7 separate regions of the Homo sapiens genome follow, and all the other regions are linked to region 6. The links come from fine-mapping of genetic effects on gene expression. A gene starts in region 6. Each other region holds a variant in brackets. All regions are shown on one strand. Distances are between the middles of the regions.

The links. PIP is the estimated chance that this variant, and not a neighbour inherited with it, causes the effect.
Region 1: its variant is fine-mapped to the expression of KIAA1671 in blood mononuclear cells (TOPMed, PIP above 0.99). The same link has a PIP of 0.9 or more in whole blood.
Region 2: its variant is fine-mapped to the expression of KIAA1671 in whole blood (INTERVAL, PIP above 0.99).
Region 3: its variant is fine-mapped to the expression of KIAA1671 in whole blood (INTERVAL, PIP above 0.99).
Region 4: its variant is fine-mapped to the expression of KIAA1671 in thyroid (GTEx, PIP above 0.99).
Region 5: its variant is fine-mapped to the expression of KIAA1671 in esophagus muscle (GTEx, PIP above 0.99). The same link has a PIP of 0.9 or more in gastroesophageal junction.
Region 7: its variant is fine-mapped to the expression of KIAA1671 in whole blood (TOPMed, PIP 0.99).

What each region holds. Positions count from the first base shown.
Region 1 is chr22:25,067,911-25,072,205 of GRCh38, forward strand. All of the region lies in intron 6 of KIAA1671, which reads left to right. Among named protein-coding and RNA genes, the nearest start is that of KIAA1671-AS1, 43 kb to the right of the region's middle. RefSeq lists an enhancer at 1,713-2,263. The variant C/G (reference allele first, on the strand shown) is at 2,195.
Region 2 is chr22:25,089,884-25,094,509 of GRCh38, forward strand. All of the region lies in intron 6 of KIAA1671, which reads left to right. Among named protein-coding and RNA genes, the nearest start is that of KIAA1671-AS1, 20 kb to the right of the region's middle. The variant C/T (reference allele first, on the strand shown) is at 2,141.
Region 3 is chr22:25,180,843-25,185,468 of GRCh38, forward strand. KIAA1671 reads left to right here. Exons shown (of 13, transcript NM_001145206.2): 10 at 857-981; 11 at 4,135-4,277. Among named protein-coding and RNA genes, the nearest start is that of CRYBB3, 17 kb to the right of the region's middle. The variant T/G (reference allele first, on the strand shown) is at 2,739.
Region 4 is chr22:25,051,502-25,056,127 of GRCh38, forward strand. The region is part of intron 6 of KIAA1671; the gene reads left to right. Among named protein-coding and RNA genes, the nearest start is that of KIAA1671-AS1, 59 kb to the right of the region's middle. The variant G/A (reference allele first, on the strand shown) is at 2,296.
Region 5 is chr22:25,154,582-25,159,207 of GRCh38, forward strand. All of the region lies in intron 6 of KIAA1671, which reads left to right. Among named protein-coding and RNA genes, the nearest start is that of CRYBB3, 43 kb to the right of the region's middle. The variant TG/T (reference allele first, on the strand shown) is at 2,422.
Region 6 is chr22:24,950,786-24,955,411 of GRCh38, forward strand. KIAA1671 reads left to right here and starts at 1,931. Exons shown (of 13, transcript NM_001145206.2): 1 at 1,931-1,987. RefSeq lists a silencer at 1,748-1,997.
Region 7 is chr22:25,075,428-25,079,730 of GRCh38, forward strand. The region is part of intron 6 of KIAA1671; the gene reads left to right. Among named protein-coding and RNA genes, the nearest start is that of KIAA1671-AS1, 35 kb to the right of the region's middle. The variant G/A (reference allele first, on the strand shown) is at 2,268.

The DNA of each region.
Region 1 (4,295 bases), 120 kb after region 6:
CCAGACTTGACACTCATCAGCCAGTCAGCCAGGACACGCAGCGCCAGGGGTACAGCCAGGCAGCTGGCATCATCCCTCCAGCGGTGCCGCCAGTGCAGAGGAACCAGCCCTTTTGCTGCACTTTTGTCGGTCAGCAGGACCCAGTGCTCTGGCTATGCTGTCAGCTGGGGCTGTCCTCTGACTGGTACTGTCAGCTGGTGAGCAGGGCTGGCTTTTCAGCTGTACTGTCTGGCAGTTAGGGAGCAGGGCCGGCCTTCCGACTGTGCCGTCAGGGAGCAGGGCCAGCCTTCCGACTGTGCCATCAGGGAGCAGGGCCGGCCTTCTGACTGTGCTGCCAGTCCCTGGCTCTGCCATCGCTGGGGCCAACCCCTGACTTGTCAGGCAGCGAGCAGCTGAGACCCAGTGCCTGCTGGGAGTGGGGCGCTGAGAATCAATGAAACCACAGGCCTGCCTCTGAAGAGCTTTGAAGCTACCCCGTGGTTTTCTCAGCTGCTGCACCCAGCACCCTCTCCTTGTTTTTTGTTTTTTTGTTGTTTTTTTTTTTGAGACAGAGCCTCACTCTGTCACCCAGGCTGGAGTGCAGTGGCACGATCTCGGCTCACTGCAAGCTCCGCCTACCGGGTTCACGCCATTCTCCTGCCTCAGCCTCCCGAGTAGCTGGGACTACAGGCGCCCGCCTCCGCGGCCGGCTAATTTTTTATATTTTTAGTAGAGACGGGGTTTCACCGTGTTAGCCAGGATGGTCTCGATCTCCTGACCTCATGATCTGCCCACCTTGGCCTCCCAAAGTTCTGGGATTACAGGCGTGAGCCACCGTGCCCAGCCCACCCTCTCCTTATTTAAGTGAGTTTCCTGTTAGATGCTCTGCCTGGTGTCCAGTGGTGAGGCTGAAGGATGCAGCACAGATGGGCCCAGGATGTTGCTGGGGCAGTCAGTGTGCCAAGCTCCAGCCTGGGGGCGGGAGCCTGGTGCAGAACCCAGGGCCTCTGCCTGGTGCCTCTGTGAACACCTCCCCCGCCTCAGTTTTCCCCTCTCAGCAGTGAGAAGGACCTTGCCTCAGAAGCACAGCTGTCTTGCATCCGGCGCTCACTTGCCGGAGTCTCTGGGTTATGGCCTCGGCTTATGAGGAGCAGGTGTTGAGTAGGGGATCCAGGAGCGTCTGGCTTGTATTTGAATCCCTGTCTCACTGTTTAGCTGCTGCTCACCTCAGGAACCTCTTTTGACCCTGTGAGTTTTGGTTTCCTCATCTGGACAGTAGAAGTGATGATACTGCCCTCATGATATGACCATGAAAACTAAACTAGATGGTTTGGCAGGATTCTACCTTGTTGAATCCTCAAAGCCCTGAACACAGGGATAATTTGTCGCATTTTACAGAAGGGGTAACTGAGGCTCAGGAGGATGAGGTGACTTGCTAAAATCATGCTCTTTTGAAGGAAACATCTGGGAAAGTTTGCCTTGGATTTGCCCGAGGTGTGCTTTTATTGCATTTTAATCTCTGAAAATTGACATTCTCCTCACTCCCCACCTGGTGCAGCTGGCAGCTGGTGCCTCAGGGAGCTGATCCCTCCCTTTGCCAGCACCCCACTCCCCATGCTGGGCTGGGTGTCCACAGGAGTGGACGGGCCCAGGAATCATGGCTGGGAGGCCTGGGTTCCAGCCTTGCTTTAGCTACCAACTCACCGCGTGACCTTGGCCAAGTCCCTTGACTTCTCTGGGCCTCGGTTTTCCTCTCTGTAAAATGGGGATGGCCACACCCTCCTTCTGGGGGGATCAGAAGCTTAGCTGAGTTTAAAAGGAACATGACTGACATCAAAGGAGCCCGGTAAACCAATGGGATCCTGAGTTGATTTCCTTCCCTGTAACGAGTGGCAGGGCCTCCTTCTCCTCATGTGGTTTGGGGAGGAGGAACCACATACATTTGGGCTCACACGCACAGCACACAGTCAGTCCACACATGCACAAAACACACTCGTATGCACACATGCACACATACTTGACTCCACGTAAAAGCATGTACACACACACTCCTTCATGCATAAACACACACACACACGCGTGCACACATTCAGTTCCCGGGCATCACCTTCTCTCTTCTTGCCTTCTTGCCGTACAACTGAAAACCCTAAAACCCTCCGTGCCTACGGCTCCCGGGAGGGTGAGGGTCCAGGCAGCTGGGTTCAGAAGGATCCAC[C/G]CCTGGACCCGCCCCACTGGACGAGAAGCCAGAGATGCCCCGGGCGGGGCTCATAGGACCGAGTGGTGGCTTCTCAGTTCCCCAGGCAGCCGTGGCCATTAGTGGAGCCGACTGGCTGGTCCCCTGGCCGTGAGCCGGCTTCTGAATGATTTATGCCGCCTTGAACTTGACTCCAGCGTGACAGGAGTGAGAAGAGCCGCTCCCGCTAGAGGAAAGCTGGAAACCGTACTGTGCTCACCACATAACCTCTGGGTGCTGGAAATGGAGTATTACTACTGCCCCAGCCTGCTGAAGCTCTTGCGCTACCTCTGGGTGAGTGGCGGGGGGCAGTGCAGGCTCCAGGACGGGGTCACGTCCTTTCCCTCTCCTCCTGCTTCCTGTCAACTTTGCTTTTTGGCTGTGTCTGGTTAGCAATGTCTCTGTTTTCTTTAAGAAATGGTGGAGGTTACAAGGAAGAGAGAATGTTGGGGAAAAAGGAAACGGGCTTGGTTTGGGAGGTAGCACAGGTTTGTAGGAAGAGCTGAGACTCCTGAACAGGAATGAAGATCCTGGATCCGATGTGGGCTTTCCTCCAGTCCTCAAGAAAACAGGAAGAACGAGAACCACTTCAGTGAGTTTTTCAGAAAGCAACATTTATTTGATTTAAAGGACTATTCTTTATTCTGAAATTACATCCCTCTTGCCTCTGTGTGTGTAAGAATGTCTGTCTTCTATGGGATGAAAATAATAGATTTTGCTTTCCTTTTCCTGAACCTACACAGTGATAGAAGAAGTTGGGACCCCTTCCCCACTAACACTCACACTGTGCTGTCTCCTCTGGATAACAGAGGAAAAAAACCAGAACATTTTCTGATGAAATGCCAAAGTCAGGGAAGCTGTGCAGAAGTGCTTTGTGAGGTATAAAATGCTTTCAGGTCTCACTTTGACTTCGCAACTGGTCTGTTTTCTGTGCCTGGGCAAGTTACTTCTCCTCTCTGGGTTTCTGTTTCCTCCTCTGTGAAATAAGGAGTGGGTGTAGGTGATTCTGGGTTGTGTGACATCCATCAGGGCTCTGGGAATAGAGGGACTTACCGAAGAATTGTCATGGGCTGGTCTCAGAGTTTTCCAGAATATTTGCCACTGGTTTCAGCACACCCAAAAGGGAAAGTCTTAGGAAATATTATCTTTCCCATTGCTGAGTGTTTGCAAATACTTCAGATGCCTTCTTGCCCAGAGAATTTTCCAGCGCTCCTAAAAATACAACTTTAGGAAACATTGCCTTTTAGCCGCCAGTCCCAGAGTGTCTCACCTCCCTCCTGAGCCCCCCAGAGCAGTGGGGAAACAGGAGATCCCCCCAGTCCATATTGTTCAATCATTGGCCTATGAACATTCTTATATAATAAATGTAAGGCAACATTGATTGATTGATTGATTGATGTTTTAATTACAAAAATAATGCATGTGCATGGTAAAAAGATATGGAAAATTCAGACAGGCACAAAGAAGAAAAGAAGTCTCCAATAATCGTATTTTTGAATTGTGTGGTTTGCAAGGTCTGGATAACCTTGATGTGCCTGGCTGCGTGTTGGGCTCTGGGCTCCATGCTGGAGATGCAGAGATGACTAAGATACAGTCCACGGTCCCCAGAACTTAGAGCTTGGCATAGGTGTTGAACTCATTGACAAATGGCTACGATCTCATGTTCATTCAGCACACACTTACCAGCAGTAGTTTGGAGCTAGCGCCAGATACTTGGAATATAGGAGCAAGACGGCATGGTCCCCTGACCGCATGGAACTTAGTCTGGTGAGAATTTGGACTTTGCTCAAGGAACTGAAACAAGGACCATGTATGTGTTAGGATGGGGGTGGTGCACAGTGCCTCAAGGGATATGGTCTCGTTGGGGTGCAGGGGCCAGGAGAGCCTCCCCAAGGAAGCTGAGTGCTGGAGGATGCCTAGGAGCTGGCAGTTGATGCTAGGGTAGGGGTCCAGGGAAGTGTGTGCCAGGCAGAGGGAACAGCATGTGCAAAGGGCTGGGGTGGATGTCAGAAAGAGCAAGAGCCCATGGCATGCCCATGGTACATTCCAGGTACTGGCCTAAGCTCATCCTGGCCAGTAGAGG
Region 2 (4,626 bases), 140 kb after region 6:
TCTAAAGATTGAACAGGGGTTTTCTAGGTGGGCTGGGACTGGCAGGGGTGATGGAGCTATGCTCAGGCATAAAGAACGGCGTGTGTAGGTACAGAGGCTAGAAGCTGAGAAGAGGGTGGTGCGCTGTCAGACATAAACCAGGTCTGCTGTCTGCCTCCTGGCTCCTGGGCTCCAGCCTGATGCTCAAATGCCCCCACCTCTGCCAGGGTTTCACTCCATCTGTGAGGATCCAGGGAGTGCGGGCAGCTCCTTAGAAGAAGTCTCTGGCCCACCAGGCTTTTCTTGCTGTCAGGCCTCAGGGTTTGCACTGGAGTGTGCTGAGCTCTGGAGCCCTTAGCTCTACTGCTATGCCGGTCGAGAGACCGTAATTTCTTTCGTCAGTCCCTGAAGTTCCAGTCTCACCCTGCACGTGGCCGGTGTGGTGAGAAGCCCACAATGGCAGGCTGTTCTCAGCATCCTCCATCCTCATATTTTGGAGAATTTAGCTGGGACCCCACCCTAAACATGTTCAGGACTCTGGCCTCATTTGTTATCTGGGTAGCTGTTAGGTTAATCTGTTTCCTCTTCCCTGGCCTTTCCTGCACATTTATTTTGAAAGTTGAAATCTCAAATGTCTCCCAGACTCCCTCAGTCCTTTAGAACATAGGCAGTCCTTTGGGAAAACCCCACACTCGGAGAACTTTTCTGAGGCCTTGTCGAGAGAAACAGCCAGGGGCTGGCCCCTTCTGCCTCTGTAAGGCAAGAAGAATGACTAGTTACTGGGTGCTTGCTGCATATCAGACACCACACAAGGCACTTTTTCTGTCATCTCATTGGGTACACGTAGCACCTTCATCAAGCAATATTGTTATCATCATTTTATCACAGGCTCAGACATGTGTAGTGACTTGCCCAAGGTCACAAAACCAATGGATGGTGGCTCTGTTATCCCACAGGGCTGTCTTTCTGTTCTACTGTGTTTCTCTCCACTATTCCTTATTGGGAATTCCATGCTGTGAATGTTCTTCCATTGGACATCTGTCCTATTGGACTGCAGGCTCCACAAGGGCAGGGATCCTCATCTGTCTTGGTTCACTGCTGTATCCCTGGAGTCTAGCACAGGGCCTGGAACACAGTAGGCAATCAGTGAACTCTTCTTAAATGACTGCGTGAATGAGTGAAGGTTAGATAAAGTACTAGTCCATTTTTTTTTGAGATGGAGTCTTGCTCTGTCACCCAGGCTGGAGTACAGTGGCGTGATTTTGGCTCACTGCAACCTTTGCCTCCCATGTTCAAGCGATTCTCCTGCCTCAGCCTCCCGAGTAGCTGGAATTACAGGCGCCCACCACCATGTCTGGCTAATTTTTGTATTTTTAGTAGAGATGGGGTTTCACCATGTTGGCCAGGCTGGTCTCGAACTCCTAACCTCAGGTGATCCACCCACCTTGGCCTCCCAAAATGCTGGGATTACAGGCATGAGCCACCGTACCTGGCCTGGTCCATTCTATTTCAAGCAAAGGTGTTGTTTGTTTGTTGATGATGGTGATGATGATGAAGATGATTTTGTTCTACCTCTCAGAATTGAACTCACGCTGCCAAAAACAAAACTCTTCTTTCTTCGTAAACCAGTTTACCTTATGGGAATCTGGTATTTTGCATTTTTCCTCTCCAAGCCAAATGAGAATGCCTATTCTATATCAGCAGAGATAGAAATCTGAACATTTCCTTTAGAAATTTCTGCATAGAAAACTAAAGCGAGGCGGAACTGCGCTTGAAGATTTCAGTTGCCATGGCTACGGGTAATACAGTGAATCATGTTCTCACATGCGTTCTTCCTTGGGCCTTCAATTGCTGTATCTCCGTTACAGGATTTTGACTATTAAATGCATTTTATTCAGTAAGGGGTTGAGAGGAGATGCCCGCTGCTGAGCCCCCGCTGACTGAAATGCTTCAACCAGCAAGGATTTATTGAGCATCTCCTAGGCTCTGGTTCATCAGGGTTCATCTTCATCACCGTCTTGTGGGTGTTGGGGTTACCACCTCTGTTGTAGAGATGGACAAGTACAGCCCCATAGAGTTTGGCTTGTGTGTGTGTTCATTTATTCATCCTTTAGTTTATTTGGTCATTCATTTACTCCTTTGTTTATCCACTCAACAAATA[C/T]GTATTGAGTCTTTTCTCTGTGCCCGACGCTGTTATAGTCACCAAGCATCAGAGGGGAATACGAAAAACAATTCCTGCCCTGGCTGAGTGTGTGTTCTAGTGGGAGAGACAGCTAATATATATGAAAGATAAATAATTCCAAATACAGATAAATGCATGAAGACAAGGAAACAGAATGATGTGACAATAAAACAGGTGATGAGACTGGGAGGAAGCGTGACTGGAATAAAATTTGGGTGGAGCCCTGAGGGAAGGAGCCAGCCACGCAGGGATGTGGGGAAGGAGGCTGCAGGCAGAGGGAACAGCACGTGCAAAGGCCCTGCATTGGGAACAAGCTGAGACAGGTTGAGGCATAGTAAGGCCAATATTGCCAGCCTTCCATTGAGCAAGTAGGGGAAGCAAGTGGGAGCCTTGTGGGCCAGGGCAGAATATGTAGAGTTTATTCTGGCTGTAGTGGAGAGATGAGGGAGCATTTTTGGTGGAGGCTAACCTCGTAGGATGGAGAACTGTCAAGCCCAGCCAGGCTGATGTGTGGGGAGTGGACTGGAGGGGCAGGAGGTAAAGCAGGGAGGCCAGTGGCAGTGGGGACTTGGGTCCAGTGCTGGGGTGGGATGGGAAGCAAGGAGAAGTGATCGGGTTCAGGCTGTAGTTTCAAATTCAAGCCATGGGAATGGATTGGAAGATCTGGGGAGAAGAGGAACTACGGAGGGTCCCCAGTGTCTGGCCCGAATAACAGGCGAGTGGTGCCAAATTTTACTGCAACAGGGAAAAGAGTGTGGAGGGAGCAGCTTTAGATGCAGGGGAGCTGTTGCGAGTTGGTGGGAAGAGATGGCATCAGAGCACAAGAGGAGAGGCTGGCCTGGGCTGTGAGTGTGGCCCCTCGGCCCCCTGCACTGGAGGGAGTCAGGGTGGCCTCCCAGATGCAGGGAACAGGGAGGGTGAGCTCAAGGTCACCAGCTGAGTATGGATGGGGGAGTTGCAGATTAGTGGAAAGAGAATTTACTGAGTTTTGGAAGCAGACAGGTTCCTGGGTTTAAGTCCAGCCGGCAAGTGACTATGTTCATTGAGCACTTACTGTGTGCTAGGTAATCTCTAGGCAGTGTCTCACACAACCCTCACACAAACCCTACAAAGCAATCGCTATTGTTATCCCCATTTACAGATGAGGAGACTGAAACTCAGAGGTGCAGTAACTTGTCTGAAGTCCACAGCGCATTGGTGGAGGGGCCAGTTTTGAGCAGGCAGCCTAGCTATGCTTCACAGCCTAGGAACCAGATCAGAGGCTCAGATTTCTCATCTTTCAAGAGGAGAGACAAGACCTTGCAGGGCTGTTAGTGGAATGCCATAAAATAATGGATGGCAACCCCTATAGAGTGCCTAGCACTGTGCTCAGGCACAATAGGTGCCTAAGGGACAGCCACTCCCTCCCCTGACCTGTTTCTGTCCACTTGGTTTCCATTAAGTGACACTCACTGCTGGCAGTTCATTACTGCACAGTGTGTTCAATTGCTTGGAGAAGTCCTTCCTCCAAGGGATCTCATTAAGTCCATTTTGAAATGAGAACACTTGGTGGGGAGCGGGGAGGCAGTTATTATTATACCCTGAAAATCAGTTGTTTGAGTAAGAATGGAGAGGTACCGGGATCTTCCCTGCCCCCCGACACACACACACACACACACACACACACACACACACACACACACACACACACACACTCTCTCTCTCTCTCTCTCTCTCTCTCTCTGTCTCTCTCTCTCTCTCTCTCTCTCTCTCTCTCTCTCTCTCTCTGTCTCTCTCTCTTTCTCTCTCTGTCTGTCTCTCTCTCTCTCTCTCTCTCTCTCTCTCTCTCTCTCTCTCTCTCTCCCTTCTGCTTCTGCTTCTGCTTCTGCTCCTGACAGTGATGCTGGTTTGCAGGCACTTTGCCAGCCCCCGCCTTGCCTCCCAGGACTTCTCACTTTGGGTTAAAGAAGGGAGGGAGGACAGAGAGATATATGGGGCCACCCTGAGGACTGTATAGGTGTCCACATCCAAACACGAAGGCTGCTCCCAACTTAAAGCATCGTTCTTGTTTTCGAAGAAAGCGAACCATCAACTCAGACCTTCTTGAGAGAGGAGTTTTTCTGTCAAAGCTCCAAACAGGGCATTTTCTGTTGCCTTCTTGAGACTTGGGATGAATGGTGGTTAAACGGGAGCAGGGAGGCCCAGTTTAAATGCAGGTGTGGGTCATTTGCCCAGAGCTTGGAGCCCTCCAGAGCTCCCTCCAGAGGGACTGGCGTGTTGTGCTGCGGGTGGTACATGCAGACCCCCAGGGTGGCTTTGTGGAGTGAATGAATCCGGGATGGAGACCTGAAGGGCCCTTATAGATCATCATGGCAACCCCTCCTTGTTGGCTGAGAGGACACAGGCCCAGGTCTGTCCAAGGCCCCTCAGCAGGTGGGAGGCAAGCAGGCCCTGGGGTGGGAAGTAAAAGGTGAGAGTGAGAACAC
Region 3 (4,626 bases), 230 kb after region 6:
TTTCTGAGCCAAGTTCTATTAAGCCACCTGGAGCAAATGAAGACCATAATAGGGACAAAAGCACACAAATACCCCCAGCTGGAACGTGGCAGCAGCACCTCTGGCTCCCATCAGCCTGGAGGAGCCGGCCAGGGGCTGGATGGGGAAGGCTGGGTCTGTGTTTTCTTAGCGTACCTCAGTTCCTCGGGTAGCCCAAGGGCTCCAGAGCACCAGGTCTTGCCTCTTTCATCCCCGCCCCCTCCTCCAATCCTCACTGTGCCCATGCCAGCATCCTGGTCTCAGAGAAGTAGAAACTCCTCCCATATCACTCCTGGAAGAGTGGGATAGGCAGCCCATCACCCAAAAGCTTGAGTGATCAGCTCAGCCTCAAGCACGGGTCTGGGGTTAAGTCCTGGATAGGGGAGTTGGGGTCAAGGAAAATGGCTTCCTGGTCCACCTTTGGGCCGCCTTTCCACAAGACACATGAAGCTCTCCACATTCTCCTCTGAGAGCATAACCTCGGTGCATTGTTGGCTGAAAGCATTCCTATCTACTTTCCTGCCTCTGCCAAAGATTTCCTTCTATTCCCTGACTTGGAATGAGCCAAGGGCCCAGGAGATGGGTTTGCCTCTGTCCTCCCGCAAAAGAAAACCTACTCTGCCTGTTGTCAGTATCTTCTGGCAAGAAGCAGAGTTGTGAGAAGAGAGAGCATGAAAGCAGGCACCTTGGTGGTCCTCATCTGTAAAATGGGCCATAGCGTCTTCTGTGCAGGTCTGATGTGAGCATTGCATGAGATACTGTGTGCAAATTATCTGGCATGTAGGACCTCAATACATGGCAGCTGCTGATGAATTCAGTGCCCTTTTCTTTGCAACAGAGGAGAAATCACCCAGGAAGGAGGAGTCGGATGAGGAGGAGACGGCATCCAAAGCTGAGAGGACCCCTGTCAGCCATCCTCAGAGGATGCCTGCGTTTCCAGGCATGGATCCGGCAGTGCTAAAGGTACCAGACCTCTCACCAAGAGTCACCTGGTGGGCATGATCCTCAACCTTAGCAGTGTAAAGAATAGATTCCGGCTGGGTGCAGTGGCTCACGCCTGTAATCCCAGCACTTTGGGAGGCCGAGTTGGGCGGATCACGAGATCAGGAGATCGAGACCATCCTGGATAACATGGTGAAACCCCGTCTCTACTAAAAAATAGAAAAAAATTAGCCGGGCGTGGTGGCGGGCGCCTGTAGTCCCAGCTACCTGGGAGGCTGAGGCAGGAGAATGGCTTGAACCTGGGAGGCGGAGCTTGCAGTAAGCCGAGATTGCGCCACGGCACTCCAGCCTGGGCGACAGAGCGGGACTCCATCTCAAAAAAAAAACAAAAAACAAACATATTCCTTCCTTCCGTCCTTCCTTCCTTTCTTCCTCCCTCCCTGTCTTCCTCCTTCCTTTTGTCCCTTCTTCCTCCCTCCCTTCCTACCTCTTTCTCTTTCCTCCCTCCCTTTCTCCTTCCTTTTCTCTTCTTTCTTTCCTCCCTCCCTTTCTCTTCTTTCTTTCCTCCCTCCCTTTCTCTTTTCTTCCTTCCTTCCTTTTTTGTCCATCCTTTTTTATCCTTCTTTTTTTCCTTCCTTCTCCTTCCTTCATTCCTTCCATTTTTGAAATAGTTTAAGTTTCAAACGGAGTTGCAAAAATAACTCAGGGAGTTTCTCCATACCCTTCACTCAGCTTCACCCACATGATAGTATTTCACATGACCATAGCACATTGGCAAAATTAGGAAATTGGCTTCTACCATTAACAATACTACCAACTTACTTGGCTTTCACCAGTGGCCCTGTGTTGCTTAATCTCCACTTTCTGACTCTCCTCCGCCCCCAAACCTGCTGCTCTGGTGTCATAGCTAAGCCTTGGTTTGCTTATCTGTAAAGTGGGCTGAGAATCCAACTGGTGACGCTCACCAGTGCTGAACATCAGGGAAGCAGGAGTGAACAAACCCAGGCTCCTGAAGCCCTTGAGGAATCCGGTCTGCTGTGGAAGGCAGGCACAGAAAATGATCATTTCAGTACCAGATGACACAGGAAGCCAGTGCTGGAACCAAGTCCCAGTCTCCCAAATTGCACCAGAATGCCAACTGTATTATGCAATGCTGAGGGAAAGGCTGAGCTGCCTCCCTCCTCCCCACGTCCAGCTCTCACAAGTGTCTCTCATAGTCCTGGAACCAAATGGCACTTAATTTGGGTGAGGAAAGAGGCCCTTTTGCCCCCCTGTTTCAGACATCATGTGCTTGCAAACTCACTTTATGCTCCAGCAACCTTGCAAAAGGTAGCTCTTCGTTCCCCTTTTATTGAAGAAGAAATGAAGGCAGACAAGCCTGAATTGTTGGTGGAATTTCTCAACTCTGTGTATGCCATGCAGGCCACACAATCCCCATGTGGGAGCGCCGTGACTCTGTTGCTCCTTTAGTAGACGGAAGTTTTGCTTTTCTGTCATTTCTTCCACGAATAGAAAATCAGTCAGTAGTGGATGCGTGCTTGTGTCTGTAATTGATTTTACAGGCCCTTACAGTGTGAACATCTTTCAGTCACTAGAACTAGGTTAGAGGTTTTCTGACTTTCTTTCCCTCCCTCCCTCCCTCCCTCCCTCCCTCCCTCCCTCTCTTCCTTCCTTCCTTTCTCTTTCTCCTTCCTTCCTTCCTTCCTTGTTCTCTCCTTCCTTCCTTCCTTCTTCTTTTTTTGTTTTTTGAGACAGTCTCTCTGTCACCCAGGCTAGAG[T/G]GCAGTGGTGTGATCCACTGCAAGCTCCGCCTCCCGGGTTCAAGCGATTCTCCTGCCTCAGCCTCCCGAGTAGCTGGGACTACAGGCGCCGGCCACCATGCCTGGCTAATTTTTTGTATTTTTAGTAGAAACGGGGTTTCACCATGTTAGTAAGGATGGTCTCAATCTCCTGACCTCCTGATCCGCCTGCCTCGGCCTCCCAAAGTGCTGGGATTACAGGCGTGAGCCACCGCATCTGGCCTTCCTCCCTCCCTCCCTCCCATCCTTCCTTCCTTCCTTCCCTCATTTTCTTTCTTGCCACAAAGCAAATGATCTTATAAGGTAGCCTAACGCAGGAGGCAGACAGCCACAGGCCCTGGGTGTAGGTGAGATGGAGGCCCTGGGGCTCCCATGTGGATGCACCGAGTAACTGCTGAGGCAGATCTTGGGATTCCAGAACACAGCTCCAGTCCACTGTGCTCTGTGAAAACGGGGCTCTGGCCATTCATTCATCAGTGTTAGCTTAAACTTCAATCTCTACCACAGCAGTGCTAGGCGATTATTAACAACCAGGGGAGGTTGCAGGGCTTGTCCTGGAAAGAACCCTGGAGTTGGGCTGCGGGCAGACCCGGTGTGAATCCCAGTTCATAAAAGCTGTGTGACTTCGGGCTAGACCTTTGAGCTTTGGGCTCTCTCGCCCTGTAAAATGGGGAAAGCCAGGATCTGCCCTAAAAGAATCATACACACATGGAACGAACTCACATTTGTCATATTTCTTGAGCCTGGTAGAGCAAAAGTGATGGGTGATCAGTGCACAGAAGCTATCAGTGGACAATGGTAATGACTGCTGTTGCTGGGGGCTGACCCAACACGGCCTGGGAGAGAGAAGCCACTTGCCACCACTCACACCTCAGGTCCCGCAAGGGAACTTTATGCACACCATTGTATTCCATTCCCAACATGCCCTCCAAAAATGGGTGGATATTTGCCCTCCGGTTTTCTTATGGGACTCTAATAGACTGTCGAAAACTTCATTTTATTTACATGGCTCCAGGAGTAAGGAACTGAACGGAGCTAAGCTGCAGCTGTTGGATGGAGGGAGCTGCTCTCTCCATGTAGAGTTCTCAGGGTGGCATGCCGTGTGCTGAGCACACTACAAATGGTGGCTTTTCAGCAAAAGAGAATGTGATTATGTGGGGTTTGGGTGGTGATTCGATCTTGGGGGTCGAGGGTGGCTGCTTGGAATGCCAGACTGACATCTGACTTTTCTCAGCCCCCATGTTTCCTGTCTGGGTTTATTCCGATTCAGGGGGCCCCGAGTGTTTGCAGAAGGCTCATTGTACCTGACATTTGCATGGGAGGGGGCCCTTCCCCAGACAAAGGGCAGCTTATAGACTCAGCTCTCTTTTCTCCCCAGGCTCAGCTGCACAAGAGGCCAGAGGTGGACAGTCCTGGCGAGACCCCCAGCTGGGCACCCCAACCCAAGAGCCCCAAGTCCCCCTTCCAGCCTGGGGTGCTGGGCAGTCGCGTGCTGCCTTCCAGCATGGACAAGGATGAGAGGTGAGGGGTCTTGGGGAATGGGGGTCCCTCTCCTTCCAAACTCAGGCTATACTTCTAGAGAGGTGCTCGCATAGGTTTTAGAGCTGAATAGAAGAGAGTTACAACTTTTTAATTTTCTCTAGCAGCAGAAGCTTTGTTCATGAGAATTCTCAATACTCAGATACCTAAAAAGTACAACAGAGGCCGGGGAAGGAGGCCAGGAATCAGGCCAGCTGGCCTCTCCTCTTCCCCGCCCACTGCCACCTGCTACATGGAACGCCAGGGCACCATTGCTGGAGAACTACTGATCTAGTTTAGCCCTCTCCAGACCGATGGGGAAACTGAGGCATTCTCCCTCCTCTTCCCCTTT
Region 4 (4,626 bases), 100 kb after region 6:
TCAACTGCAGTGGTAGCTTTTGCTTCTTTCTCCCTCTTCCCTTCCTCCTTTCCTGATCCTTTCCATCTCTTCTACTTTCCCTTCCCTTTCTCATCCTCCTCCTCCCCTTCCTCTCCTCTGCTTTTTTTCTCACCTGTCCAATTCTCTTTTTATAAAAGGGGAAAGTGAAGCCAGGAGAGAGGACCTGACTTAACCAGGGTGACCCAGCAGAGGAGGGCTGGGGTCCTGAGCCCCTGGTGGCTGTCCCTGCTCCTCTGGAAATTGGTCATACATGCATTTTGTGTCTCATGAGGTGTTTGAAGGGATTCACTGTGTCTGCTATGATTCCCATCACTGCTTTGATGAATGACTTTGTGCTGTTATTTTCCCATTTAAGTTCATGTTCATCTTCATTTTTTGAGCCTCTCAGGCCTTGCCAATTCCTACTTCAGCCTCATGTTAGTGACCATGAATCCTATTTTGCAGAGCAGGAAAGTGAGGCTCAGAATGCTTCAGCCCCTTGCCCAAGGCCACACAGCTGCTGGGGGAGCTGGAATGGAAACGGGGCCTATCTCACTCCAGCCTTGGCCCCAGGCCCTTCCCGCCATGGGCCTGTGCTTTTGGCCTATGGCCAACCCCTGCCAGCCCCTGCCAGCTCCTCTCTCTCCTGGGCCTGCAGCACTCCGTGCATTAGCTACATGAGGAAACAAGACACCCTGAGCCCTGGGACTCCTCCTGGAGCTGAGAATGTGATATTTGCTCAGCCCGGGGTTGGCCATCAGCTGCTGTGCTGCTGCTGTCTTGCAGAGGGTGCCTGGGACCTGCCAGGCCAATGCCCTGCTGATTTGCATAGCCCTGCCCATGGTTGCTGAACTACAGACCCTGCCACTTGCTAGAGGCCTTGAGCAAGTGAGTTTACCACTCAGGGCCTCACTTTTCCTCCTCTATAAAGTGGATAGTGATAGCAATAACAAAGCCTAACACTTACTATCGTTACATGTCATGTAGATACTGCTATTATTTCCACTTCACAGATGGGCAAACTGAGGCTCAGAGCCATTAAGTGTCTCTTCCAAGTTCTGGGTCTGCAGTCCATGCTCTTAAGTGTCTGCTGAACTTTCCACTCGTCTTACGTGGTAGCCCGGTGGGAGGACAGAGCCCAAATGAGATGATGCTTACAAAGCTCTTAGCACAGTGCCTGACACCGAGAAATGGCTTCACAAATCATAGCAGCTATTATTATTATTATTATTTGAGATGGAGTCTCACTCTGCCGCCCAGGCTGGAGTGCAGTGGCATAATCTCGATTCACTGCAGCCTCTGCCTCCCGGGTTCAAGTGATTCTCGTGCCTCAGCCTGCTGAGTAGCTGGGACTACAGGCGTGCACCACCACACCAGGCTGATTTTTGTATTTTCAGTAGAGATAGGTTTTGCCATGTTGGCCAGGCTGGTCTCAAACACCTGACCTCAAGTTTTCCGCCAGCCTTGGTTTCCCAAAGTGCTGAGATGACAGGTGTGAGCCACTGCACCCGGCTTATTATTATTTTATTATTATTTGCGGCCAGGTTTTTTTTCTATGCTCTCCCAAAGAGCTGATGGGAAAGACAAACATCCATAGCCTTAGAAGTTTTTCTGCAGTTGAGGAGACAGGCCCAGTGTAGGGAAGTGTCTTGTGTATGGTCCTGTGGCCTCTAGAGGCAGAGCTGGGGCTGGAGTTCTTCTTTGTGACTCCTTGGCCAGTGCTCTCTGTTTCTCCCCATCTCCCTTGTTACTTTCAGGGTTCCCCTCAGGACCTCGAGTCCACATGGCGAATCCAAGTCCTGTATCAGGCTTCCTCCCTCTCCTCTTTTCCCCAGGAAGTGAGCTTTGGTCTGCATTTTCACAGGGACCATAAAACACAGTGACTCAGTTGTGGACTGTGACCTCGAGTCACAGTTTACCCTGGAGGCCCATCTTGTGACGATGAAGTCAGAGATTCATCAGCTGGGAGGCTTCCTTGCAATGGGCCAGCGGGAGGGCCTCTGGTAGTCTCTAGAATTTTCTCCCAATCCCTGAAACCTATTGGTTAGCATATGCTGGCTCATTTGGTTCTTGAGTTTATTTCTTTTTGGGCCTACTATGCGCCAGGCCCTGCATGATGGGGCCTGGAGATTTTCTCCGTCAGCCTCCTGGAGTTCACAGCCCAGGGGTCTGAAAATGACCTGGGAGGGTCCAGTTAGGTGCAGGAAGTAGGAGGGGAGACATTTGGGACTGAGAACTCACACAGACAAAGGGGGGTGCTTGGAGGACCAGTTGGGCTGAGGTAGAGTGTTTAGG[G/A]ATTTTGCTCCTTTTTTTGACAAATATTTATCTGCATGTGGTAAGTGCTATGCTGGGCAGTGGGCTACAGTTATGACTAAGGCATAGACAATTAAGAAGGTAGGTAAATAGGCCAGGCACAGTGGCTCACGCCTATAATTCCAGCAGTTGGGGAGGCCTAGGCAGGCGATTCGCCTGAGCTCAGGAGTTCGAGACCAGCCTGGGCAACATGGTGAAACCCTGTTTCTACTAAAATACAAAAAAAAAAAAAAAAAAAAGAAGAATTAGACTGGCGTGGTGTTGCGTGCCTGTAATCTCAGCTACTCAGGAAGCTGAGGGGCAGGAGAATCACTTGATCCCAGCTACTCAGGAGGCTGAGGCAGGAAAATCGCTTGAACTCGGGAGGCGGAGGTTTTAGTGAGCTGAGTTTTCGCCACTGCACTCCAGCGTGGGTAACAGAGTGAGACTCCATCTCAAAAAAAAAGAAGGTAGGTAAATAATTGCAGTGGGTTCTAATAGCTAATTTTCTTTTTTTTTCTTAAACAACAGAAATTTGCTTTCTCACAGATACACAGGCTAGAAGTCCAAGATGAAGGAGCTAGCAAGGCTGGCTTCTAATGAGGCTCCTCTCCGTGGCTGACAGCTGTGTCCTTCATTTGTCTTTGCGTAGCCTCTTCTGTGTATGCAGGGTGGGAGGTGGGTGATAGGTAGATGTCTCTGGTCTCTCTTCCTCTTCGTTTGCCAGTTTATTACAAAAGATAAGCTGTAGAAGCAGAGATGCGTAGGGTGAGGTATGGGGGAGGGAGTGCAGAGCTTCCATGCCCTCCCTGGGCACGCCACCCTCCAGGAACCTCCCTGTGTTCAGGTATCCGGAAGCTCCCTAATAGCTACTGTTTATTGAACATTTACTATATGCCAGGCATCATGTCATGTGCTTTAATTTAATTTGAATTTGTGTAAAGTCTCCCTGGAGGAGGGAGGGGGTGTCTCCACTTGGGGAGGGCTAGCTGAGAAGCAGGAGTTCGAGACCAAAGAGTCTGAGTTCTAAGTCTTGAAGGCTGAGCAGGTGTTTGCCAGGTAACTATGGTCTGGGGAACAGTGGTTTGCCCCTGATCGAGGGAACAGCATGGGCAGAGGTTTAGAGGCGTGAAATTGTGCTCTATACAACGGATGTCATCTGGGGTCCTTTAAACTTGACTTCCACGTGACCCTCCTGGACACCCGCAGTGTTTGGTTTTACACTGAGCTCAGACTTTCCCACATCTCTAACTGGTGAAACTGTGGCCCTTTGCTTCTGAGGCTGGTGCTGTGTCATCGTCATGCCAGCATCTTTGTACGCAGGATCTGCCAGGGCAAAGGTTGAGAGGTTTGAGAGCATTTGGACCTGATGACTTTGTTATTAAGACTGGAAAAAGGAGGGGAGGAACATTTGGATTCTGCTGACAGCAGTGGTAGTCCTTGTGAGTGTAATCAACTTGAAATAAGTGGGAACTTGTGAGGTGGCCCCCGCCCAAGAACATATCCTGGCTGCTAGTTAGAGATTCCCTCTAGATTTCAGTTGGTTGACAGCGAGTCCAAATGAGAAGGAAACAATCAAAATGAAAGACCACACAAGGACTGCTGAAAGTAACTCATCAAAGGTTGTGACTGAAAAAACAAGTTGTGGGCTGGGCGCCGTGGCTCATGCCTGTCATCCAGTGACTCAGGAAGCCAAGATAGGAGGATTGCTTGAGGCCAGGAGTTCCAGACCAGCCTGGGCTGAACATAGTGAGACCCCTGTCTCTAAAACAATGAATAAATAAAAATTTAAAAATTAGCCATGGTAGCTCATTGAGATATTTATTTTCATTTCCCTAATGACTAATGATTTTGAGTATCTGTTCATATGCCAAATGACCAGTTGTATATCTTTTTGGCAGAAATGTCCGTTCAAGTCCTTTGCCCATTTTTGAATCAGATTGTTTTTTCTTTGTTGTTGAGTTGTAGGAATACATACACACAAACATATATATAGATAGATATAGATAGATATAGATATAGATATAGATATAGATAGATATAGATACAGATACAGATATAGAGAGAGAGACAGGCAAACAGACAGACAGGATCTGGCTCTGTTGCCCAGGCTATAGTGCCGGTGGCATGATCTCGGCTCACTGCAACACCTCGTGAGTTCAAACCATCCTCCCACCTCAGCTTCCCAAGTACCTGGGACTACAGGCATGTGCCACCATGCCCAGCTAATTTTTTTTTTTTTTTTTGTATTTTTGGTAGAGACGGGGTTTTGCCATATTGCCCAGGTTGGTCTCGAACTCCTGAACTCAAGTGTTCCTCCCACCTTGGCCTCCC
Region 5 (4,626 bases), 200 kb after region 6:
AAGCCACAGGCTGGGCTGAGCACCAGAAGGAAACAGAGCCCTTGGCTCTGTCTCAGGCAATGGAATGTCAGCCCGACTGGTTTTCCCCCTTTCCCTGGGGTGGGGTGTTCATCAACAAAGGACTCTCCTTGCTGGTTGACAGCCTGAGGTTCCAGGCACCCCCTCAGCCCCACTGCGAGGTCCCCAACTCCAGAGGAAGAGAGACTCCATTCATGCTGAGCTTCCTATAGGCCCCAGCTCTGCCAGGCCAGCCATGCAAGGCTGCTCTGCAGGGCAGATGAGAGGGGGCTGTCCAGGCACACAAAATAGTAGGCTCTTAATAGATACGATGCTTAACTTCCCCAGGCTGTTCCTTCTGGCTGCTTTGCCTTCCCTGATATCCCCACCTGTCTTGTCACACCCTCCTCAGAGCCCTCTGTCACCTGCCACTCAGGCCTTCTGCGCCCTCTCCCCCACTCTGTCTGAGGCCCAGGGGACCTTGGATACTTGGGATAGGAAACTTTGATTAATCAGCGGACCTCAATTTGAGATGGCATTTTCTGCCCCTTGCTCTTTTTAAACCTATTCATAATAATTTTAGCATCTTTCCACATCAGCCCTTCAATTTCTACCTTCTGAAGAGGCAGTCATTGTTTTGAATGGAGACACCATGTTAATTCCCTTGCACTGATAAGCTATAGTTTAGGTATCAGGTGCTCTTGTGGAAGGGCAGTTGGGTTGTGTGTTTGCTGTTACCAAAAACAGTGCTGCTGGGACCATTCATTTGTGTGTGCATTTGTGTGTGTATTATATATGTTTTGTGTGTATGTGTATTTGTGTCTGTTTCTATGTATTTGTGTATGTGTGTGTGGGGGGGTTTTTGTAGGTATGCATTTGTGTATATTTGTGTGTATGCAGCTGTGTGTGTGTGTGTATTGGGTGCATGTATTTATATGTGTTTTTGTGTTGTCTATTTTTTGTGTATGTGTGTGCATTGGTGTAGATGTTTGTGTGTGTACATTTGTGCATGTGTATGTGCTTGTGTATATTTGTGTTTGTGTGAAAGTGTTTTTTGTGTATATGCATTTGTGTGTGCATATGTAAGTATTGTGTATGTGTGTATGCATATCTGTGTGTTTATACATGTGGTTATGTGTATATTTTTGTGTATGTGCATTTGCATGTGTATATACCTATGTGTGTATTTGTATTTATGTACCTGTGCTTGTGTGTATTTGTATATATGTGTGTTTATGTATATTTTTTCTGTGTCTATGCATTTGCCTGTATATGTGTGTATTTGTATGTATGCACCTGTACTTGTATTTGTGTATGTGTATGTATATAGTTTTTTTGTGTATATATATTTATATAAATATATATAAATACACACATATATATGTATGTGTGTATTTGTGTGTATCTTTTTTGTGCATGTATGTGTGTATGTGCTTTTTTTTTTTTTTTTTTTTTTTTTTTGAGATGGAGTCTTGCTGTGGCACCCAGGCTGGAGTGCAGTGGCGTGATCTCGGCTCACTGCAAGCTCTCACCTCCTAGGTTCATGCCATTCTCCTGCCTCAGCCTCCCGAGTAGCTGGGACTACAGGCACCCGCCACCATGCCTGGCTAATATTTTTGTATTTTTTTAGTAGAGATGGGGTTTCACCGTGTTAGCCAGGATAGTCTTGATCTCCTGACCTCGTGATCCGCCCTCCTCGGCTTCCCAAAGTGCTGGGATTACAGGCATGAGCCACCGTGCCTGGCCTGTATGTGCTTTTTATGTATATGTAATTGTGTGCATATATGTGTGTATTTGTGTGTATGCATTTGTGTGTGTTTATATTTTCATGTGTATATGTGTTTGTGTGTATATGTGTGCATATGTGTTTGTGTTTTGTGTACATGTTTGTGTGCATTTGTGTGTGTGTGCATGTGTTGTGTTTATATGTATTTGTGTGTATATATGTGTATGTGTACATCCGTATGTGTTTTTGTGTCTTTGCATGTGTGTATATATACATATATGTGTGCATCTGCATGTGTTTGTGTATGTGTTTTGTGTATATGTGTTTGTGTATATACTCATGTATGTCTGCATCTATGTGTATGTGTTTTGTGTATATACATTTGTGTGTATATACATGTATGTGTGGATCTGTGTGTGCGTGCATCTGTCTGCTGGATGGACTTCCAGTAGCAGGGATGGTCAAGCCACTTTGTGACATTGGAATGTCATCATTCCCATAGAACACAGCTGAGTTGGTGGCAGTGTTCTGGCAGGGAGAGAGAGACCAGGCCTTGGGCTGGAGGATTTGGGGTCCTCAGTCAATAGGGAGACACACCCAGCGCCCTGCCTCCTCAACAGGTTTACACGTACGCTGCAAGGCTGCAGTTCTGTCACCTGACAAGTTGAGCCCTAGCCTGAAATAAACTGTGAGAGAGA[TG/T]TTTTGACATGTGATGTTTCAAAAAAAGAAGTCAAATTGGGCTTAGTCTGTTTTAAGAATCCCTCCAAGAGGAGCCAAGTTGGGATCAGTGGGAGCAGATTCCATTAAAAGGAGATGCTGGGAAACGTAAAAGAATTATATACTTACATATAATTATACATTTTCAAAATGTACTTTTTATATCACTAGCCACAAATGTTACAAAATACAAAAAGAGGTAGAATAAAAAAAAGTCATCTCTCCTCGTCCTCTAGTCACGCAATTCCTCTCCTAGAGACAAGTATGATTGCAGTTTTCTTGTGTCCTTAGGTATTCTGTGCGTTTTGGTCTTTACTTTTTTCCCCCTCACGAATGGCAGGGTCTGCCACCTGTTACTTTGCACCTTGCTTTACTCACTAGACAGTGAATCTTGGAGGTCGTTCCATGTCAGTAAACTTATGTCTGCCTCATTCTTTTTAACTATTCTTTCTAACAATTAAATAGAGTTCTACATTATAATTGTTCTATACTTTAGGTTAAATACATTTTTTAAAACTCCAGATTCTCTTTTCCCTTGACTCATCGTAACCTTAGAACTGTAGAGCTTATATTAACAGAAATTCTGAGTTAAAAAGAACATCAAATTTGTCTATCTCCATGCAAGAGTGCCACAGTACTTCTAGAATGTTCTGTGCCCCTCCCCTCTCCCCTGATTATTTTGGGCATTTTTCTTCTCCCTCAGGATCAGTCTCTCCTATTTTGCACCTAAATGTATCACACAGGCCACCCCAGTTTCACTGTCAGCACACTGCACATAGTTTTTTTTTTTTCCTGTTCTTTTTATTTTTTTTTTTATTCAGATGGAGTCTCCCTCTGTTGCCCAGGCTGGAGTGCAGTGGCACGATCTCAGCTTACTGCAACCTCCACCTCCCAGGTTCATGCCTTTCTCCTGCCTCAGCCTCCCGAGTAGCTGGGACTACAGGTACCCACCACCACGCCCGGCTAATTTTTTGTATTTTTACTAGAGATGGGGTTTCACTGTGTCAGGCAGGATGGTCTTGATCTCCTGACCTTGTGATCCGCCTGCCTCGGCCTCCCAAAGTCCTGGGATTACAGGCGTGAGCCACCATGCCCAGCCCACATAGTGTTTTATAAAAAACAATTTGTTTTAAAAAGCAACAAGAATTAAATTTTAAGGACATATATAAAAGCAGATGGTCCTGTGATATATCAAGAGGGTCTGGGTAAATAGCAGTGTCATTCTGACATTAGAGAGGGGACAGGGAGTCATTTATGGGTTCATTCACTCCATCCATCCATCCATCTTCACTTGCTTCCTGTCCACTGTGGCTGTCTCTGAACTTGTCACTGGCATTTGAGGGCGAACAGACCCCAGTTCCTGACCTCAGGGAGCTTACAGTTTAGAGAACACAGTCAAACGATAATCACAGCCCAGCCCAATAATTTCTATGATGGGGTGAGCACAGGGGGTTCTATGGGGGTCCTAAGAACCCACCTGGGGATGGGGCCAGCCAGGAGAGGCTTCCTGGGGGAGTGGATGCCTGGGCCGCATTTTAGGGACACATTCCAAACAGACCCCGGGCCATACTGCCAGCAGCCGACACACTGGACCAAGGAGTACTTCCTGGGTAAAACTGCAGTGGGCGTTGGTAGAGTGGGGAATCGCAGGCCACTAACTTGAAGCCCAGCCACCTGGGTTTGAATGGAGCTCCTTCCTCTCTGTGCCTCGGTCTTCTCATGCAGAAAGTGGGGATAGTAACAGTACCTGATTTCTCGGATTGTTGGGAGGACTAAATGTCACGGCCCAGCATGCAGTAAGCACCATCCAAGTGTCTGCTATTGTTACTATTTAATGTGTCAGAACTTCAGCTCACTTATCTGTGAAATGGGGATATTAACAGTATCTATTATGGGAATTAAACTTGATGGTCTACATAAGGAATTTGACATGGTGCCAGGCATGCAGTTGGCGCTTCTTAGGTGTTTGTGGCTGTTACTATTCTTATTGCCTCCCTGCCTACCTCTGACACCCACAGCGCAGGCTCTAGGGTGCCCACTGGGCTTCTTGGGTCTAGGGGAACCCTGCCTCTGAGGCCGACAGGAGCCTGGGCCTCCCAGCCCAGCTGTTGTTTGTGTTTATAGCCTCCAAGGAAGCCCCCACTCAGAGCTTTGTCAGGCACTCCCAGCCGGGAAACCAAATACGC
Region 6 (4,626 bases):
ACGCATTCTGGTTCATGGAGATTTGCCCAGGAGAGACAGGAAGTTCCCATAAGGTTAGGGAGGAGGGGCAGCAGATGGCATGTCATCAGCTGTTGGTCATTCATGCACTCAGCATACATTCTTTGAGCACCTATTGTGTGCCAAGCCCTGTTCTAGGCACTGGGAATCGGAGGTGAAAGACAGACAGAAGTCCCTTCCTCCAGGAGGTCTAGAGAGAAGAGCAGACAATCAACGATTTTCCTTTGCTGGTATAACATACACGTCATGTAAAGGCCTGACTTACGTGGATTTTGAAGGATTTTAAGTTTCAACCCAGCCGTTCCTGGTCTCCTACTCACAGACTTCTCTCTGGAAGTGGTAGTTGTCTGTAAAAGCAACTGGGTTTGATCCTTTTGATGACTGTACTCAAGATACCCAGATGATAAGGAGAATGTCTTGAGACATGAGACCTCATGGGACCTCTGCCCCCCAATTCCTGGGTTCCAGCACTGTACACAAGTCAGTTGGGGGTTCTCGGGCTGCTGTTTGGTAAACAGGGTTTACCCTGCCTGGGTCTGATGGTGATGATCAGACCTTCAAAAGGGTTGCAGTGCAAACGGTGTGGAGAACAGGAGCTACCCTTGTTTCTTACACACACCCAACAATTTAAGAGCAAAATGAGGCAAGAAGTCTCCCCACCAATCCTCCTGAAGCCACACAATGTGATGTCTTTTTCTTTTTTTTTTTTTTGAGATGGAGTCTTGCTCTGTCGTCCAGGCTGGAGTGCAGTGGCGCGCTCTTGGCTCACTGCAATCTCCACCTCCCGGGTTCAAGCCATTCTCCTGCCTTAGCCTCCCGAGTAGCTGGGATCACAGGCATCCGCCACCACGCCCAGCTAATTTTTGTAATTTTTAGTAGTGACGAGGTTTCACCACGTTGGCCAGGCTGGTCTCAAACTCATGACCTCAGGTGATCCACCCGCCTCGGCCTCCCAAAATGCTGGGATTACAAGCCACCGTGCGCAGCCTGTGATGTCCTTTTCTTTCTCTTTTTTTATTGAGGTCTATCTTGCTTATAATAAAGGCACATTGATTTTAGGTCCTCCAGTTATTCATGCTCTGTACATTTCCCATAGGAGCACATGTCACAGATTCAATTTGATATACTCGTGAAATTATTTGTTTGAATATCTGTAAGCTGCACAACAGCCTGGATTTTGCCAGCTGCCCACCACTGGGTTCTCCAGCACCCAGCATGCAATAGGTGCTTAATAAAGATCTGCTGAATGAAATGAGTAACGGATAACAGAACAGGTATTTTCTCTTTCAGAGGCGACTTCCTACGATTCTCTCAACTTGTCCACAAGTTCCTGTACCCATTACCCCACAACTCACACCCACAACATAATGGCAGGAGGATGCGCACACAGTAGGCGCTCCAGCGAACTCTCAGGTGCAGTGCCCTTGCTTGGCGCGAGGAGGCGCCAGCACCGCGCACAGACCTTGCCCGCCCCCGGGCCGGCACCAGCAGCCCAGGCAAGTCAGTGGGCCCACATTTATGGAGCGCCTCCTGAAATCCTGGGTTGCATTAGGCTCTCGGGGTCGCCGGCTGGGCAGCGGGTCGGTGCCGGTGGCGGGGGATCCTGGCTGGTGACTGGGGAACATCCAGGGAACGCGGGAGGGTACCCGGAGCAAAGTTCCCAATTGGACAGAGCGGGGTCGGGCCTCGAGGGGCGGGAGCGCTTCCGGCAGGGGTGTCCAAGCGAGTCGTGACCTCTGACCCGCCGGAGAGGTCCCAGGCCCAGGCGCCACTGCGGACTCGGGTCCTGCCTGCTCTGCTCCCCTCCGCGCAGGCGCGGCCGGCGGCAGTTCCCATGGTGACGGGGGCGCGTCCCCGCTCGAGGCCCCGCCCCCAGCAGGCTAGGCTGCGCGGGGCTGCGGGCTCCCAGGGCAGGTGCCGCGGGCTGCGGGCAGGTGGCGGCGCGGCGCGGGCTGGCGGTGGCTCCACGGTAGGTTGCGCAGCGGCTGCGGGCAGTGGGGGCCGGCTGGCCGCCTCCTGTCCCCGGCCGACGAGGTAGCTGGGGGTGACGGCGGCTGGCGAGGGCCGCCAAGTTTCTGCCCGGCCGAGGCCCCGGGAGAAAAGTTGGCAAAGTTGGCCGGGGAAGAGGCGGGGAGCCGGAGGATTTCCCCAGACTCCGGGTCTGCAGGGAGGGAGGATCCCGGTTTGGGAGCCGGGGAATCCGTCTCCCGAGACTTGAGAGTGGATCCCGCGGGAAGATCCCGCACAGGGCAACCAATGGATCACGTGCCACCTGGTTGGCGACTTGGGAGTCGATCCCTGGAGGGGATCGGGCGCTGGAGGCCTGGGGTCCCACTGGATCCCCAGTCAGGGGTGACGGCGAAGGGTGATTCGAGACTGGGAGCGAGAGGATCAATCTCCTCCCATGCCAGCCTGAGCCTTGGGAATGGATTCAGAGAGATCCCGTGGCTAGGAGCTGAGGGATCGCTGGAGATCTGGGTTACTCAGCCTGGAGCTGCTAGGGTCTGGACATTTGTGCGGGTTGGAGGCCCCGGAGGTGGAAGTGGGAAGCAAGGGCGGCGAGCGAGACGGAACCCTGGTCGAGGGGAGCCCGGAGGACAGCGCGGTGGTTCGGGGGGCGTGAGAGGGGCGGCGCGCGGGGCCCCTCGGACGCGGAGGCTCCGGACACGTCCTCTCGGCCTGGCCTGCGCCCCCCCTCCGCTCGTCTTCCCAGGGCGGAGGCGCCCTGATGGGATTAAGCCTCAGTCCCCCTGTTACCAGGCAGGCCCGCGTGGTCCCCGCCCCGATGGCGGCGCGGCCCACCCGGGCTCACGGGTGGGGCCCTCGGGATGGGAAGCGGCTCGTTGACCCCCACCCGAGCCTGACCTTTTCACACCCTGCTGGCACAAACTCGCCTGGGAGTGGGGACGCCGCGCCTTAAAACCCTGCTGTTTGTCCAGTCCCGGAGCAGGCGTGTGACCTCCACCGCGCGACGCCTAGGTGGCTAGGGCTTCCTGCCTGCCGGGACTGAACTTTCTCTAGCCAGGAGCAGCCATTATCTTTTGGAAGGGAAAGGACTGTACCTGTTGCACAAAGAAAAACACTTTCTTTGCACCTTTTTTGTGACCTTGGGCAAAACACTTAACCTATCTGAATCCAGATGGGGACCCTCTGGGCAAAATGGGCTTGGCCTAGGATGGATCGGAATGAAGGGTATGAAACAGGTAGGGGCTCTATAAGTATCAGTGCCTCCCTCAGTCTATGGCCTCTCCTTTCCCGTGCCCCATCCCCTGTGCTTGCCTTACAGTATCTAAAGATTCCAGAAACCCTACTTGCTATCTTTTGAAACCGCAGGATTAGAGAGCTATTTAGCTTAACCTTTCTTCCAAATGGGTTAATTGCCCCTCTGATCCCCCCTTGCAGAGAGAAGCTCTGAGGTTTGGCTAATGAGTAACCAAGACATTTGGACAAAGCTTCTCCCTTGGTCTGGCTTTCCCTCTGCTAATCCATCAAGGTTCCTGGACAAACGTGTGCACCCCCAGACTCTGGCGCCTCCTTCCTTCCTGTTGCAGCCAGGGACAGTTCCCGAGGAATTTGTACAGACACAAGCCCAGATCTTGGTGGTTCTGGCAGGGGGATCCTTTTTAAAGGATTTGCATGCTTGACAAGGGTGCAATTACCCAAGAGAAGTGCAGAGTTTCAATGCAGTGTCTGGACATACATTTCAGCTGGGCACATGAACTGGCTGGCTCCATCAACCAGCGTGTATTGAGCACCTATGTCAGGAGCACTGTAGAAATGGTGTGGCCTAGGGCAACTCAGGATTTGTCCTCTTGGAGTTACTTTCCAGCTATGGAGCAGTCGGCTTGCCCTGCAGTCTAGTACTGATTCTTGATGTTGGGGATACAGTTCTCACCCTAGGTTCAGAGGCTGGAAGCTGCCCCTACCCCCACTGGAGGTCCTAGGGGCTGCTTTTTTTCGTTTGTTTTGTTTTGTTTTGTTTTATTTTGTTTTTTGAGATGGAGTCTCGCTCTGCAGCCCAGGCTAGAGTGCAATGGCGCGATCTCGGCTCACTGCGACCTCTGCCTCCCGGGTTCAAGCAATTCTCCGGCCTCAGCCTCCAGAGTGGCTGGGATTACAGATGCCCGCCACTCTGCCCGGCTAATTTTTGTATTTTTAGTAGAGATAGGGTTTCACCATGTTGGCCAGGCTGATCCCAAACTCCTAACCTTAGGTGATCCTCCTGCCTCCGCCTCCCAAAGTGCTAGGATTACAGGCATGAGCCACTGCGCCTGGCCGGGGCTGTTTTTTATTGAAGGCTGACCTTGGCAGGAGAATGAAGGAGCCAGTTGTCTGGCTCTGAGCATTTCTCCTCACCAGGCTACATCTCTGACCAACTCAGAAACAGAGCCTCACAGGGATATTTTATATGTGCATTCATTCATTTATTTATCATTTGTTCCTTCAACAAATATTTCAAGACACTGTGTCAAAGATGAGGCTAGCAGCCACATCCTTAAGGGGATACTTTATGCCCTGAAAGTCTTTGTGAACATATGCATTTGTCTGGAAGGGGAGAACTATGATCATAGGAGGAGGGGCTGATGCCTTTGGCTATAAGGAGGGATG
Region 7 (4,303 bases), 120 kb after region 6:
GTATTTTTTCGCTTTTAGTTTCATCCCTAGTAGGGCCTCATCACTGCCAGCTGAATGAGTGAATCAGTGCGCATCTTTTTTTTTTTGAGATGGAGTCTCTGTCACCCAGGCTGGAGTGCAGTGGCGTGATCTCGGCTCACTGCAACCTCTGCCTCCTGGGTTCAAGCGATTCTCCTGCCTCAGCCTCCCAAGTAGCTGGGACTACAGGCACGTGCTACCACACCCAGCTAATTTTTTGTATTTTTATTTTTAGTAGAGATGGGGTTTCACCGTGTTAGCCAGGATGGTCTCTATCTCCCAAAGTGCCAGGATTACAGGCGTGAGCACTGCACCCAGTCATCAGTGCGCATCTTTTTTTTTTTTTTTGAGACAAAGTCTCACTCTTGTTCCCAGGCTGGAGTGCAGTGGCGCGATCTCGACTCACTGCAACCTCCTCCTCCCGGGTTCAAGCGATTCTCCTGCCTCAGCCTCCCGAGTAGCTGGGATTACAGGCGCCTGCCACCATGCCCGGCTAATTTTTGTATTTTTAGTAGAGATGGGGTTTCACTGTGTTAGCCAGGCTCGTCTCGAACTCCTGACCTCAGGTGATCCACCCGCCTTGGCCTCCCAAAATGCTGGGATTACAGGCGTGAGCCACTGCACCCAGCCTGTCAGTCCTTATCTTTTTGTGTGTCCACTGGCAGCATAAAAAAATCTGCCATGTTATTTAAAAAGTTTGTAACCATGATATTTAATAGCTGCTTAATATTCCTACCTGTTGTCAGCCTTGGTTTATGGGGTACTGGTTTCATTTACTTTGGATATATACCCAGAAGAGGGATTGGTGAATCTAGTAGCCAATTCTTTGTGGTTGGAAACTTAGGTTATTCCCAGGTGTTTATTGTATGCATAATTGTTCCCCGCCTTAAATCTTGATTCACATTTCGAGCTGTCTCCTGTGTCAGCTTCTTAGAAGTGGGGCCAAGCGTGGGCTGCAACAGGTTTTCTGCAAAGTTGTCACTTGGTGGTGGGATGTTTTTAGCTTCCTGTTGGCAGCCTGAGTCCTTCTCATAGCTGCACTTCTCTTCTGGGGGGAGAAACCACTATCACCATCAAGCTTGGTGCTGGTCCAGCAACAGTTGGGGCATGGGGAGAGAGATTAAGTTTCTCTTTCAAACTATTAGTAAGAATAGCTGAGGGCTACAGCCTCTGGTGTGGCTGTTGTGAGTTATTTAATCTCCTTTGTTGCTGAGATAACCTCGCCAGACGGTCCCAAGGCCTGTGGCCTTGCTAGGGGCATCAAGCTGCTCTCTTGGGGTTATCAATTACAGCAGTAGTAATTAGTGATATAAGCAATAGTCATATGATGATAAAAGTCACCATCACCACCACCACTCCTACTGAGTGCTCACAAAATCCTGAGCCTGTACTAAACGCCTTTCAGAGGGGTCTCATTATATCCTTATAAGAACCCCAATGGGTTGATCTCATTATTACCTGCATTTTGCAATTAGGGAAACTGAGGCCTTGAAAGGCTAGGTATCTCCTCCAAGGTCCCCGGCTAGGAAGTGCTAGAGCCTGTATTTGAACCCAGCTCTCCCTCTATTATTTTTACTACTTCGTGGAGTCTGATCTTCTGGTTTCTCAGATGGGGAAACTGAGGCCCATGGTGTTGAAGCAACTTCCCAGCCTACAGGAAAGCTTTCTATGCATATCAAGCTTTGCAACGAGGAGGATGACAGAAGAATGTGGCACTAGGCGAGGCGGGGCTCTGGAGGGAGAACCCTGGCCTAGAATCCTGGCCCTGTCTCTACTGGGTGTGTGGCTTTTGGTAAATCACATCATGGCTGTGGGCATCAGTTTCCCTCTCTATAAGTGGCAGTGGTCAGCCCCACCTTGGAGGAACTGTGCTGAGGATTAGCTAAGAATAAGGGGCATTAGTGTCCTTGGCACAGGGCTGGACTTAGAGTGGGCATTTAATATGGAGATGGTGTTTGTTGGGAGCTGGGGAGGGCTCTGATATAATGGCAGGGACCCCCACCTCCTGTCCCATGCTCTTCCCAGCTGCCTCTCCAGCCCCGCCCAGGGTCTGTGAGGCTGACTCTCGCAGGCTTCCTCTACTCCAGCCTCCCATGGCAGAGGTGGCTGCTTTCAGTGTAGTGAGGAACTGCTGAGTGGCCCGTGGGGCGTGACACCCCAGCTGGGGCTTCTGATAGCTTCTTGGGGAAGGTGCAGATCCCTCACCTGCCCTTTTAAGATCCTCCTGCAGGGTCCGTGTTCCATGCCTT[G/A]GTCTCCCTGGAGATGGGAAATCACTGTGGTTTTCATTGTGTTTCTAAGCTTCATGTCCCCACGTTTGACTCTGTGACCAGATTTTTGAATGGAAAAAATCTAAATGTGGTTAGTTCCACTGTTTTCTCCCCAGACCCTCTTGCTACTTGTTCATTTGGCTGTGGCCCTCACTCAGCGTGTAATCACCTCTAGGTGACAGTAGTAATAATAATAGTCATGAAACAGCAAAAGATATTATCCTCTTTGACGCTAAGTGCCTCAGTGTGTGGGATCTTGATTAATCCTCACAAATAGCCCTGAGGGGTGGATTTTATTATTATTTTACCGAAGAGAAAACTGAGATTCTGAGAGGCTGAGTAACCACCAGATATGCAACAGCTGGCCAGGGGCAGAGCTGGGATTTGAACTTGGAAATCTGACTCCAAAGCTAATTTGATGACTACATGCAGTCTCTGTCAGGCAGGGAGGTTGCTTGTGTGTTTACCACTGAACTCTCAGCCCTTGGCCCAGTGCCTGGCACATAATAGGTGCTTAATAGATGTGGGCTGGCCAGGTGCAGTGGTTCACGCCTGTAATCCCAAGACTCTGTGAGATCAAAGCGGGAGGATTGCTTGAGCCCAGGAATTTGAGACCAGCTTGGGTAACACAGCAATACTCAGTCTCTACAAAAGAATTTTTTTTTGAATAGCCAAGTATAATGGTGTACGCCTATAATCTCAAATACTCAGCAGGCTGAGGCAGAAGGATCACCTGAGCCCAAGAGTTCGAGGCTGCAGTAAGCTAGGATTGTACCACTGCTTCCCAGCCTGGGAGACAGAGCAAGACCCTGTCTCAAAAAGAAGTAAAAAATAAAAATAGATGTGGGCTGATGGACCACCCTGTTGACCTGACATGTTGAAAGCTATTGTGGGGACAAATGGCCTTATCGTAGTGCCTGGCACTCCATACGCACACCGTAAGCAATTACTGTTACCAGCTTCTGAATCTCAGATCATAGTGGCTTCAGTTTGTGCCAAGGGTCTGGTTTGGCTTTGTCTCAGCAATGTCTGTGGCTGAAATAGAAGAACTGACTATTTTTGTGCTGTTTGAGTTGGGCCTGAGGTTTGGGCCATGGAACAGTTTGCATCATGAGAGATTTTCATCTGACTTGAGCTGTGGGCGCCTTTTTAGACCCAGTCATGGAGGCAAAAACGGGCTTGGAGTCAGTCTCTCCTGGCTTCTATTCCCTACTGGGCCACTTATTAATAGAGCATGGGGCCTCGAGCAAATCTCTTAGCCCTCCCAGAAACTCAGTTTTGCCATCTATAGAGTAGAAATATTGATAGCAACTTCCTCGTGGGTTGGCCTGAGGACTCAGTGAGGCGATGCAAACAAAGCCAGGCATACAGTAGGTGCTGAATAAGTGGTGGCAGCCGATGCTGGTGCTAGGCACCTGATGTGTCCTCAGTTCAGTTCAGTTGCATGCACCAGGCCCTGTTCTAAAGGTTTGGGATACATCAGTGCACAAGACAGCCATGTTTCCTGCCCCAGGGACTAACTTTTTTTTTTTTTTGAGATGGAGTCTCGCTCTGTCGCCCAGGCTGGAGTGCAATGGCACCATCTCGGCTCACTGCAACCTCCGCCTCCTGGGTTCAAATGATTCCCCTGCCTCCGCCTCCTGAGGACCTGTGATTATAGGGGCCCGGCCAGAATTAACATTCTAGTGGGGTGTTCAGGCAATCAACAATGGGTATGTGTAAGAACGTTGTATAGTATGTCAGGAGGTGGGCTGTGCTGGGGAAAGACAGAAGGAACCAGGTAAGAAGGTTCTGGAGGGCTTGGGTGTGTGGGGCCTCTGCCTCTCTAAAAAGGTGACATTTGAACAGAGACTTTAGAAGCAGGGAGAGCATAGGCCAGGGGAGCTTGGGGGGAAACAGGAATAGTCAGTGCAAAGGCTTTAAGGCCCAAGCATGCACAGGCACATTTGCAGAACAGGAGGGATGCCACGGTGGCTGCAGCAGACTGGGTGAGAGGAGAGAGTGGGCAGTGAGAGCAG